Homo sapiens: one gene and its partner. The protein of the gene in region 1 interacts with the protein of each later gene in a biochemical or structural test. Each region holds a gene or a part of one and is shown on either strand. Other genes may lie near its edges. The genes, in order: KLK4 and SPINK2.

Region 1 (2,844 bases):
CAAGCTGTTTTCCAAAATGGTTGTAGCATTTTACCCCCTACCCCCAGCAATGTAGGAGAGTTACAGCTGCTGTAGATATAACCAAGACTTGATGCTGTTATTCTTTTCAATTTTAGCCATTCTGGTAGCTGTATGTCTTTTGAAATGATTCTATATTTTTCAGATACTGGGTGCAACATTCCATATATGACCATTAAATAGAGTATGTTAATCATACTGTTCAAATTATCTATATACTTATTCAGTCTCCCATCTCCTTGCCCCTCAGTTGCCCCATTGTGCCCCTCAAACTTCCCTCTTTCTACTCCTTGGTCTCTGTTGCTGTCACTCACAGTAGCCCTCGCCACAATTCTCCCCACTAGACTCTAGCTGCAGCAGCCAACTTCTGAGACACATGCAAATTAAAAATTCTTGAAATGCAGTTAAGAAGACAAAAATGAATATAGATCAACTAAAGCTGAATAGTTAAACTAAGCAAGAAAATCTCTACGGTTACCATTTGCTGACCTGACTTTTCAGAAACTGGACAACATCCATGGCACTGGTTTCTCTTAACTATCCAGGGAATGGCCCCTCCCTCTGAAACTCTGTGGCCCTCCTGGTCAAAGCTCGCATTTCCCAGATAGGGAAATGCGACCCATGGAGGGAAAGCCATTTGCTGGAATCTCTTGAATGGAAGGGGAAGCAAGGAGGACACTACAAACAGAACCTGCGCTTCTCTTAGACTTTATTTCTGGATCTAGGGGAAAGGGACAAAAAATGAAAAACCAACTGGTAAGGTTGGGTCAACGTGCCACAAGGGGGCACTGTGTACAGGGAGAGTCTAGGTGGCATTGGACCGCTGGGTCTGAGGGAGGAGGGGCTGGGACCTGGACCTCTGGGTCTGGGGAAGGAGGGGTTGGGGGCCTGGACCTCTGAGTCTGAGGGAGGAGGGGTTGGGGGCCTGGACCCCTGGGTCTGAGGGAGGAGGGGCTGGGGGGTCTGGACTCCTGGGTCTGAGGGAGGAGGGGCTGGACTCCTGGGTCTGAGGGAGGAGGGGCTGGGGGGTCTGGACTCCTGGGTCTGAGGGAGGAGGGGCTGGACTCCTGGGTCTGAGGGAGGAGGGGCTGGGGGGTCTGGACTCCTGGGTCTGAGGGAGGAGGGGCTGGGGATCTGTACCCTTGGTTTGAGGGAGGAGGGGCTGGGGGCCTGGACTCCTGGGCCTGAGGGAGGAGGGGCTGGGAACAGATATTCCTGAATTCCTTCCGCAGGATGTATTTGGGGGTCAATTTCATGGGTTCCCAGTCCCCAGAGTTAACTGGCCTGGACGGTTTTCTCTATCCACTCAGTGAATTTGCAGAGGTTGGTGTAGACACCTGGCACGCCAACTTGGCCACACGGGGCTTTTCCGAAAGACACAAGGCCCTGCAAGTACCCGTTGCAGATCAGGGGCCCCCCAGAGTCACCCTGTTGTGAAGAGAGGGAGAGTCAGAATTCAAAACACAGAGAGGTGGAAATGGATGTGGGCTCAGAAAGGAACTAAATGAGACTGAGAAACAAAGACAGAACCATCATCAATAACAACATAGCCCAGCAACATATCTGTTGGAAGTCCCATTCCAGATCCCTGACTTCATCTAATCCTGCTTCCCGATGTCCTATGTCCTGAATGCTGGCTGCTTCTCTTGGGCTTGTGGTCTGTCTGTTTCTGTTTGTCTGTCTCTCCTTTGTCTCCTTTGTGGCTTGTTTATCTGTCTCAGTGTCTCTGCATCTCTTTGTAAAGTCTTTTTTTTTTTTTTTTTTTTGAGACAGAGTCTTACTCTGTTGCCCCAGCTGGAGTATAGTGGTGTGATCTCAACTCACTTCAACCTCTGCCTCCCATATTCAAGCAATTCTTCTGCCTCAGCCTCCCAAGTAGCTGGGATTACAGGCGCCTGCCACCATATCCAGCTAACTTTTGTATTTTTAGTACAGACAGGATTTCACCATTTTGGCCAGGCTGGTCTTGAACTCCTTACCTCAAGTGATCTGCCTGCCTCGCCTCCCAAAGTGCTGGGATTACAGGCATGAGCCACCCTGCCCAGCCTCTTTGTAGAGTCTTGATTTTTCCTGTTTCTCTTCGTGTTTCACCTCTATGAATCTGTGTCACTGTTTCCCTCTGGGTACACAGTTGACCCTTGAACAACCCTGGTTTGAACTGCACAAGTCCACTTATACTTGGATTTTTTCAATAAACACATTAGAAAAATTTTAGGAGAGTTGCAACAATTTAAAAAAATTCACAGACGAACTGTGTAGCTTAGAAATATCAAAAAATTCCAACAAAGGTATATCATGAATGCATAAAACGTATGCATAAATCGACTATTTATGTTATTGGTAAGGCTCCCCGTCAACAGTAGGCTATTTCTAGTCAGGTTTTTGGGGAGTCAAAAGTTATAAGAGGATTTTCTGTTGGGTGGAGGTCACCGCCCTCAGGCCCCATGCTGTTGGAAGGTCAACTGCATTTCTATGTGTGTGTGTTTCTGCCTCCCCATGTCTGTTTCTGTTTCTCTCTTCCTTTGCTTCTCTTTATTCCTGTGTTTATTTCTCTGTTTCTCTCAGTTTCTCTCTCTAGTTGTCACTGTCTCCCTGTGTGTCTCTCCATCTCTGCATCTCGCCATGCGGCCCTGTGTGTCTCTGTCTCCCCCTTCTCCACCCTTCCCTGAGTCGCCTGCCCTCCCCTTTCCCCTCTCTCACGTTGCAGGAGTCCTTCTGGTCTTGCCCTCCGCCGGCGCAGAACATGCTGGGGTGGTACAGCGGGTCATAGAGCTTACTGCAGACCTCCTCAGACACCACCGACACGTTCACGCACTGCAGCACGGT
Region 2 (7,506 bases), on another chromosome or scaffold:
CAAAGCCATTCAGCAAGTCTCTAGGAAGTTCCAAACTTTCCCACATTTTCCTGTCTTCTTCTGAGCCCTCCAAACTGTTCCAACTTCTGCCTGTTACCCAGTTCCAAATTCACTTCCACATTTTTGGTATCTTTTCAGCAACGCCCCACTCTCCTGGTACCAATTTACTGTATTAGTCCATTTTCATGCTGCTGATAAAGACATACATGAGACTGGGAAGAAAAAAGGGTTTAATTGGACTTACAGTTCCACATGGCTGGGGAGGCCTCACAATCATGGTGGGAGGTGAAAGGCCCTTCTTACATGGCAGGAGCAAGAGAAAAAATGAGGAGGAAGCAAAAATGGAAACTCCTGATAAACCCATCAGATCTCCTGGACTTATTCACTATCATGAGAATGGCATGGGAAAGACTGGCCCCCATGATTCAATTATCCCCCTGGGTCCCTCCCGCAACACTTGGGAAATCCGGGAGATAGAATTCAAGTTGAGATTTAAGTGGGGACACAGCCAAACCATATCACCTACCTCTACAAAAAATACAAGAATATTAGCTGGGTGTGGTGGCGGATGCTTGTATTCCTAGCTACTTGTGGGGCTGAGGTGGGAGGATCGCTTGAGCCCAGGAGGTTGAGGCTGCAGTGAGCTGAGATTGCGCCACTGTACTCCAGCCTGGGTGACACAGCAAGATCTTCTCTCAAAAAAAAAAAAAAAAAGAATACAGTTATGCCCATTCATTGAGTTATAGTCTATGTCTCCTTTTGCACTGCAATGGCAGAGTTTAGTTGTGACAAGAAGTCAATGGTATTTACTATCTGGCCCTTTACAGAAAATGTTTTTTGACCCTTGTTCTTGGCTCACAAATGCTGAGACAACATGTGAAAAGCACCATGATAGAAAATATTTCTAAGGTATAATTATCAACATTTTTTTTTTTTTTTTGAGACGGAGTCTCGCTCTGTCACCCAGGCTGAAATGCAGTGGTGTGATCATGGCTCACTGCAGCCTCCACCTCCCAGGCTCAGGTGATCCTCCCACCTCAGCCTCCTAAGTAGCTGGGACTACAGGTGCGCGCCACCACACCAGGCTAATTTTTGTATTTTTTTAGAGACAGGGTTTTGTCATGTTGCCCAGGTTGGTCTCCAACTCCTGGGCTCAAACAATCTGCCCGCCTCTGCCTCCCAAAGTGCTGGGATTACAGGCATGAGCCACCCTGCCAGTCAGTGTCAACTCTTTGAAACAAAATAACCTAAAGGCAGCTGTATCCACACACATAAATTTATAAAAAATCTATCTTGAGGGGTAAATGGCTTTTCTTTTGAAGCTGAAATTCCTACTCACACACCTCTGAGCATTGCCCCTGAGTCTGGGTCAGATTTGTGTTCCCAGAGCATCAAAGGTGTTTGTAAGCAAGTGCACATGTCATTTGGTAACAGACATCCAGCACAGTTGAGAAAAGCTTTATATATAAATTATATTTTATCAATCCTTGATAAGAATCTTCAGCAAAATGACCCATGACCATTTCATGACTGTTATTCAAAGAACTGAATGTGATGTGACTTAGAGAAGTACTAACACTCATTTCAAATTTACCCCTTGGCCTCAGACAGGATTCCAGCCAGAACTCAGCCATGTGTGGTGCCAAGTGGAGTTAAAAACTGCACAGTGTCTTCTTGTTCCAGCCTTTGAGGTTGCTAAGGTCAAGGGTGGGCATGGGAACATGCCAGTCATAAGATGATTCTCCATCAGCTCTACAACCCCCTTCTACACTCTGCTATGTGGTGCCAGGTCTCAGCAGACCTCATTTCTGCTTTTTCAGCTGGCTTCCAGAAGGTTATGCCCATAGGGTCTGTCAGGGGGACACCGGAAGGCAGGAGGAGGGAGAAGGGACTGGCTCCTGCCTGCTGGCTGTTTCTTTCAGCAGTGCCACAGCAATGACTCTTCATCACTCTGATAGAATCAGCTGGCTCCAGTCTCCAGCATTTTTTTTTTTTTTTTTGAGACAGAGTTTCACTCTGTTGCCCAGGCTGGAGTGCAGTGGTGTGCTTCGCTCACCACAACCTCCACCTCCTAGGTTCAAGAGATTCTCATGAACCTGGGATTACAGGAGTATGGCACCATGTCCAGCTAAGTTTTATATTTTTTAGTAGAGACAAGGTTTCACCATGTTGGCCAGGCTGGTCTCGAACTCCCGACCTCAAGTGACCCACCCACCTCAACCTCCCAAAGTGCTGGGATTACAGGTGTGAGCCACTGCACCTGGCTCCAGTCTTCAGCTTTTCCACACACTCTTAGAGCCACCTGCATATCCAAGCAACACCCCCTTCCCATGGGTCTGAGTCCCAGCTTTCCAGGACCTCTCCTCCAAATTTCTAGTTCTGAGAATCCCAACCTAATCCGTTTGTTCCCCTAGATCGAGGCATGATGCCTACTTCCTAAAGGCTTTATCTCTGTGTTACCTCGTTTTCCCTTTCTGCTTTTTTCAGTTATCCCTACTGGATTAGCCAATTCCTTATACTAAATTATCTCTGGTGAAATACCTAGTAAACCTTGTGTTTTCCAGACTGGACCCTTACTGATAAGGCAACATGTCACAGAATCATTTGACACACAGGCATAAGAAGCAGAAAAAAAAAAAAGTGGATCTGCTAATGCACTTTTTTTTTTTTTTGACAGAGTCTTACTCTGTCGCCCAGGCTGGAGTGCAGTGGCACCATCTCGGCTCACTGCAACCTCTGCCTCTTGGGTTTAAGCAATTCTCATGCCTCAGCCTCCCAGGTAGCTGGGACTACAGGTGCGCACCACCATGCACAGCTAATTTTTGTATTTTTAGTAGAGATGGGGTCTTGCCATGTTGGCCAGGCTGGTCTCAAACTCCTGGCCTCAAGTGATCTACTTGCCTCAGCCTCGCAAAGTGCTGGGATTACGGGCATGAACCACCGTGCCTGGCCAAATTTTTTTGACATGGTCTCATTTTGCCACTGAGGCTGGAGCGCAGTAGCTCAATCTCAGCTCAATGGCCACACCTGGCTAATTTTTGTACTTTTTTTAGAGACGGGGTTTTGCCCTGTTGCCCAGGCTCCTCTCAAACTCTTGAGCTCAAGTGATCCACCAGGCTCAGCCTCCCAAAGTGCTGGGATTAGAGGCGTGAGCCACCACGCCTGGCCTTAATGCACTAACTTGCTCAGCCTCTTTGGCAAAAATTATTTCTCACAGAAGTAATGAGTAGAACAGTAGTTACTAGAGGCTGGGAAGGATAGGGGGATAGGGAGAGGTTGGTTAAAGTATACAAAATTACAGCTAGGTAGAAAGGATAAGTGCTAGTGTTTCATAGCATTGTAGGGTGCCGACAATTAACAATAATATATTATAAAGGTCGAGCACGGTGGCTCAAGCCTGTAATCCCAGCACTTTGGGAGGCCAAGGTGGGCGGATTGCTTGAGCCCAGGAGTTTGAGAGTAGCCTGGGCAACATGGTGAGAACCCCTCTCTACAAAAAATGCAAAAATTAGCTTGGCATGGTGGCATATATCTGTGGTCCCAGCTACTTGGGAGGGAGGCTGAGGTGGGAGGATCACTGGAACCTGGGAGGTGGAGGTTGCAGTGAGCTGAGATCGTGCCACTGCACTCCAGCCTGGGTAAAAGAGCGAGACCCTGTCTGAAATTTAAATAATAATAATAATTTATTATGTATTTTCAAGTAGCTAGATGAGAGGATTTTGAATGTTCTCAACACAAAGTAATGATAAATGTTTGAGGTGATGAATATGCTAATTATCCTATTTTGATCACTACACATTGTATGTATCCAAATATCACTATGTACCCCCATAAATATGTACAATCATTATGTGTCAACTCAAATAGTTAAAAAATATATTAAAAGAGGGAAAGGCAGAACGCTTCCTGAGAGCAAGGACCTCCTTTGTCGAGGTCAGGGCTGTGTCTTCAGCAACGAAACACTATCTGGGACTTAGTACATGCTTAAGAAATAGGTGTTGATTGACAGAGCTCCCAAGAGCTCCACAAGGGTCCCCCTAGGACTGTCACAGGTTCTTGTATGTCGGAGGGAGAGGTCTTCCCCTTCGTCTCCTTGGGGGGAGGGGAAGGTGTTGGGGAACAACTGCCCCTTCCTCTATCTCCCTCGCCCCTCCTTCCCCATGGCCCCCTCCCCCGTCCTTCTACCTTTCTCCTTCCCAGCCCTTTCCGGTTCTCCCCCGACCCTTCACGGCTCCTCTTCCCGCCGCTCCTCTTCCCGCCGCCCCTCTTCCCTCGCCACCTACCGCTGCTTTTCCTCCCATTCTCGCCCCGCCCCTTCCCCCGCCCTCCCCGCGCCCCGTCGCACGAGCGCTCCCTGCGAGTGGCGCAGGTAACAGACCGCAGGGGCAAGACAGCCGGCGCGGGAGGAGGATGGCGCTGTCGGTGCTGCGCTTGGCGCTGCTGCTCCTGGCAGTTACCTTCGCAGGTAGCGCTCGGAGCGGTCCTGGCGAGCGGGGACCTCCGGAGAAAAGCGGGTTTGGGAGTCAGACCGGCGGCGGACCCTGCCCTGCTCCGGGCGGCCTCGGCGACGGTACCCGCGCGCCCGTTACTGGCGGTTCCCCAGAGGACCTGCCAGGTGGAGGAACGCGAACTGGGGGTTGTGGGGGTGGCTTTGTGGAGTCAGCCACCCTCTTTAGTTCTTGCTTGGGCTTCGCTCCCAGCTCTAAGGACACCTGCCATCTAGAGCGCTTTCTCTGTTAAAGTAGATTTTCAGGTGCCCAAGATGAGGAGTTGAGTTTTTATGTATGGTCCCAAGGGAGGAGATGTGCAGGAATGAGGAATTGTGGATGCTTACGAGAAAGGGGCTTTAGTCCAACCACACTGGACACCTCTCTTAAAATGGAGTTAAAATGCTCACATCTTATATTAAATTTTGTATTTGTTACCCCGAGTTGTAAAGGAAAATAACATCATGAACTATTAATTAAGGGTTACTTCCTTGGCCAGGTGTAGTGGCTTGGGCCGGTAGTCCCAGTTACTCCGGAGGTTGAGGCGGGAGGCTCGCTTGAGACCAGGAATTGAAGCTGCAGTGCGCTAGCGCGACTTTTATTCCATAGCTTCAAAGTCCTTTCTCAACCAACCCTAATGGGAACAGAACCAAATGTTATTTCTATGTGCTTTTGGGGAGAGGTGCCATAAAAAACTGAATATCCTTTCTGGGGGAAGTGGGATGGGGACAGTTTAAAGAAGGTAGGCATTAGAGGGGAAAATAGAAGATGTGGCCTGGATAAATCCCAAACTGGATTTTAAAACATCCTTATGAAGCTGGATGTGGTGGCTAATGCCTCAAATTCCAGCACTTTGGGAGGCCTAGGCAGGAAGATCGCTTAAGCCCGGGAGGTCAAGACCAGCCTGGGCAACATAGCAAGACTTCATTTAAAAAAAAAAAAAACTTCATGAACAATACCTTACCTTGATCCTATACTGTAAAATGTCTATGCTTTCTTCTTACAGCCTCTCTGATCCCTCAATTTGGTCTGTTTTCAAAATATAGAACGGTAAGTAGCAAACCACTTCTACTGTTTCTACTAATACAGTGAAGCCCAAAACCGTTTGGGAGGGAGGCTGGCTTTCAGGTCTGACCTGCCACTTTTGAAACCATTGAGGACTGCGTTTAAAACCAGGTTGTCAGGCAGGCCTTTTGATTCAGATAAAAGTGTAAGTTTTAGTTGAAAACAGCTCAGTCTTTGTGTTAATATTTCCTTTAAAGATTCAAAAGGTCCTTAGAAAAAGTTATGCCTTGTACTAGATATTTTATGTACTTTATCAAATTAAATTCTGAGGATGTAAATGGAGACCAACCAAATGAGAACAAGCAAAGGCTATGTTTTTCAGGGCTTGTTATAGCAAGAGAGTCAGCCACTGTCACTTGCATTTGAGTAGGGACTCGAGTCAAAGAGAGGAGTGGGAAAACTATAGTGGAAAAAAGGAATGGCTTCAGGTATGGCCTGATTGGAGGCTGTTGGCACAGGGAAGCTGTAGGTGAGCTAACTAGAAGCACAACATTCTATGGTATGGGTTAGGGGTGTGTATTTGGTTTTCTCTGGTTGTCCTAAGTTGGAATCAAGGACAGAAATTACGGAAGCTGTCAGTTAGTAATCAAATCCTAACCATTTTGCAGCTGGGCGCAGTGACTCACGCCTGTAATCCCAGTGCTTTGGGAGGCCGAGGTGGGCAGATCACGAGGTCAGGAAATCAAGACCATGCTGGCTAACATGGTGAAACCCCGTCTGTACTAAAAATACAAAAAATTAGCCAGGCATCATGGCACGTGCCTGTAATCCCACCTACTGGGAAGGCTGAGGCAGGAGAATCACTTGAACCTGGGAGGCAAAGGTTGCAGTGAGCTGAGTTCATGCCACTGCACTCCAGCCCAGACAACAGAGTGAGACTTCATCTCAAAAAAAAAAAAAAAGAAAGAAAAAAAAGTCCTAGCCATTTTGGGCTGATTGTTAAAGGGGTTATTGTTTTGCTTCCTGGACTGTCACTAGAGATAGCAGTCTGATTTCCTTCAAGTCTGGCTTATAGCCGGCTGGCCTCCTGGCCTGGTTATTCTAAATAATGGTTTGGGTTCCTGGACAGGATGCTGCAGGTTGTGGGTCAGAGTTCTGTTTTATATAAGGACTAGTCATTGTCTGTATATTTGGTCTCTCAATTCTCACAATGATGTTGTAAGATAGACATTATTTGACATATGAGGATATTGACTTCAGCAGGTTAACTTTGAGCATTCAGCTCAGAGTAGGCTTCTTCCAGGAAGCCTTCCCACGCGATTCCCTTCCTCTAGAGATGTAGATATGTATACACACACACTTTCTCTGTGCTTACCTATACTGCATCATCATCACCATCATAATAATAAATACTTAGATACCTACATGCCACACCAGTGTTCTAAATGCTTCATATATAATAACTAATTTCATCTTTCACAGTACTGTGAGGTAGGGATCATTATTTCATTATTATCCCCTTGGCCAAGGTCACATGGAAGTGGTGGAGCTATGCTTCTCATCCAGGCAGTCTGACTCCAGATCCAGTGCTTTTCTCTACCCTGTCACAACATTAGGTTGTAATTGCCTGTTTGCCTACGTCCTCCAGGAAACTGTATGCATGTTGTCAGGTATAATGTCTTATTTGCTATTTGTTGCTCAGTCTTCAGCATCTCACAGATGCCCAATAACACTTTTAGTCAGTGATTCAGTTTGCTTGGGTTTGATTTTCTTTTAGAAAATGGGAGTTATGGTACCTTCGTTTCAAGGCTGGGATTAGGGTAAAGTGAGTGAGTTCCTACATGTAGAATTTAAGAAGGCACTCACGCTCAGGAGGCAAGGCAAGTGCTGCAGGACCTGCTGTCTTTTTTTGTTTTTTGGAGACGGAGTCTTGCTTTGTCATCCAGGCTGGAGTGCAGTGGCGAGATCTCTGCTCACTGCAACCTGAGGCCTCCCGGGTTCAAGTGATTCTTCT

The links.
Region 2: the proteins of KLK4 (region 1) and SPINK2 are reported together in a solved structure, tested with the Homo sapiens proteins (one study listed by IntAct).

What each region holds. Positions count from the first base shown.
Region 1 is NC_000019.10:50,905,641-50,908,484, forward strand, and holds the end of KLK4 (kallikrein-4 isoform 1 preproprotein), read right to left. Parts: coding exon 2,719-2,844; intron 1,447-2,718; coding exon 1,294-1,446; 3' UTR 711-1,293; downstream 1-710. UniProt on the Homo sapiens protein: Has a major role in enamel formation. Required during the maturation stage of tooth development for clearance of enamel proteins and normal structural patterning of the crystalline matrix.
Region 2 is NC_000004.12:56,818,567-56,826,072, reverse strand, and holds the start of SPINK2 (serine protease inhibitor Kazal-type 2 isoform 1 precursor), read left to right. Parts: upstream 1-4,371; 5' UTR 4,372-4,410; coding exon 4,411-4,615; exon of another isoform or gene 4,616-4,753; intron 4,754-5,493; coding exon 5,494-5,537; intron 5,538-7,506. UniProt on the Homo sapiens protein: As a strong inhibitor of acrosin, it is required for normal spermiogenesis. It probably hinders premature activation of proacrosin and other proteases, thus preventing the cascade of events leading to spermiogenesis defects.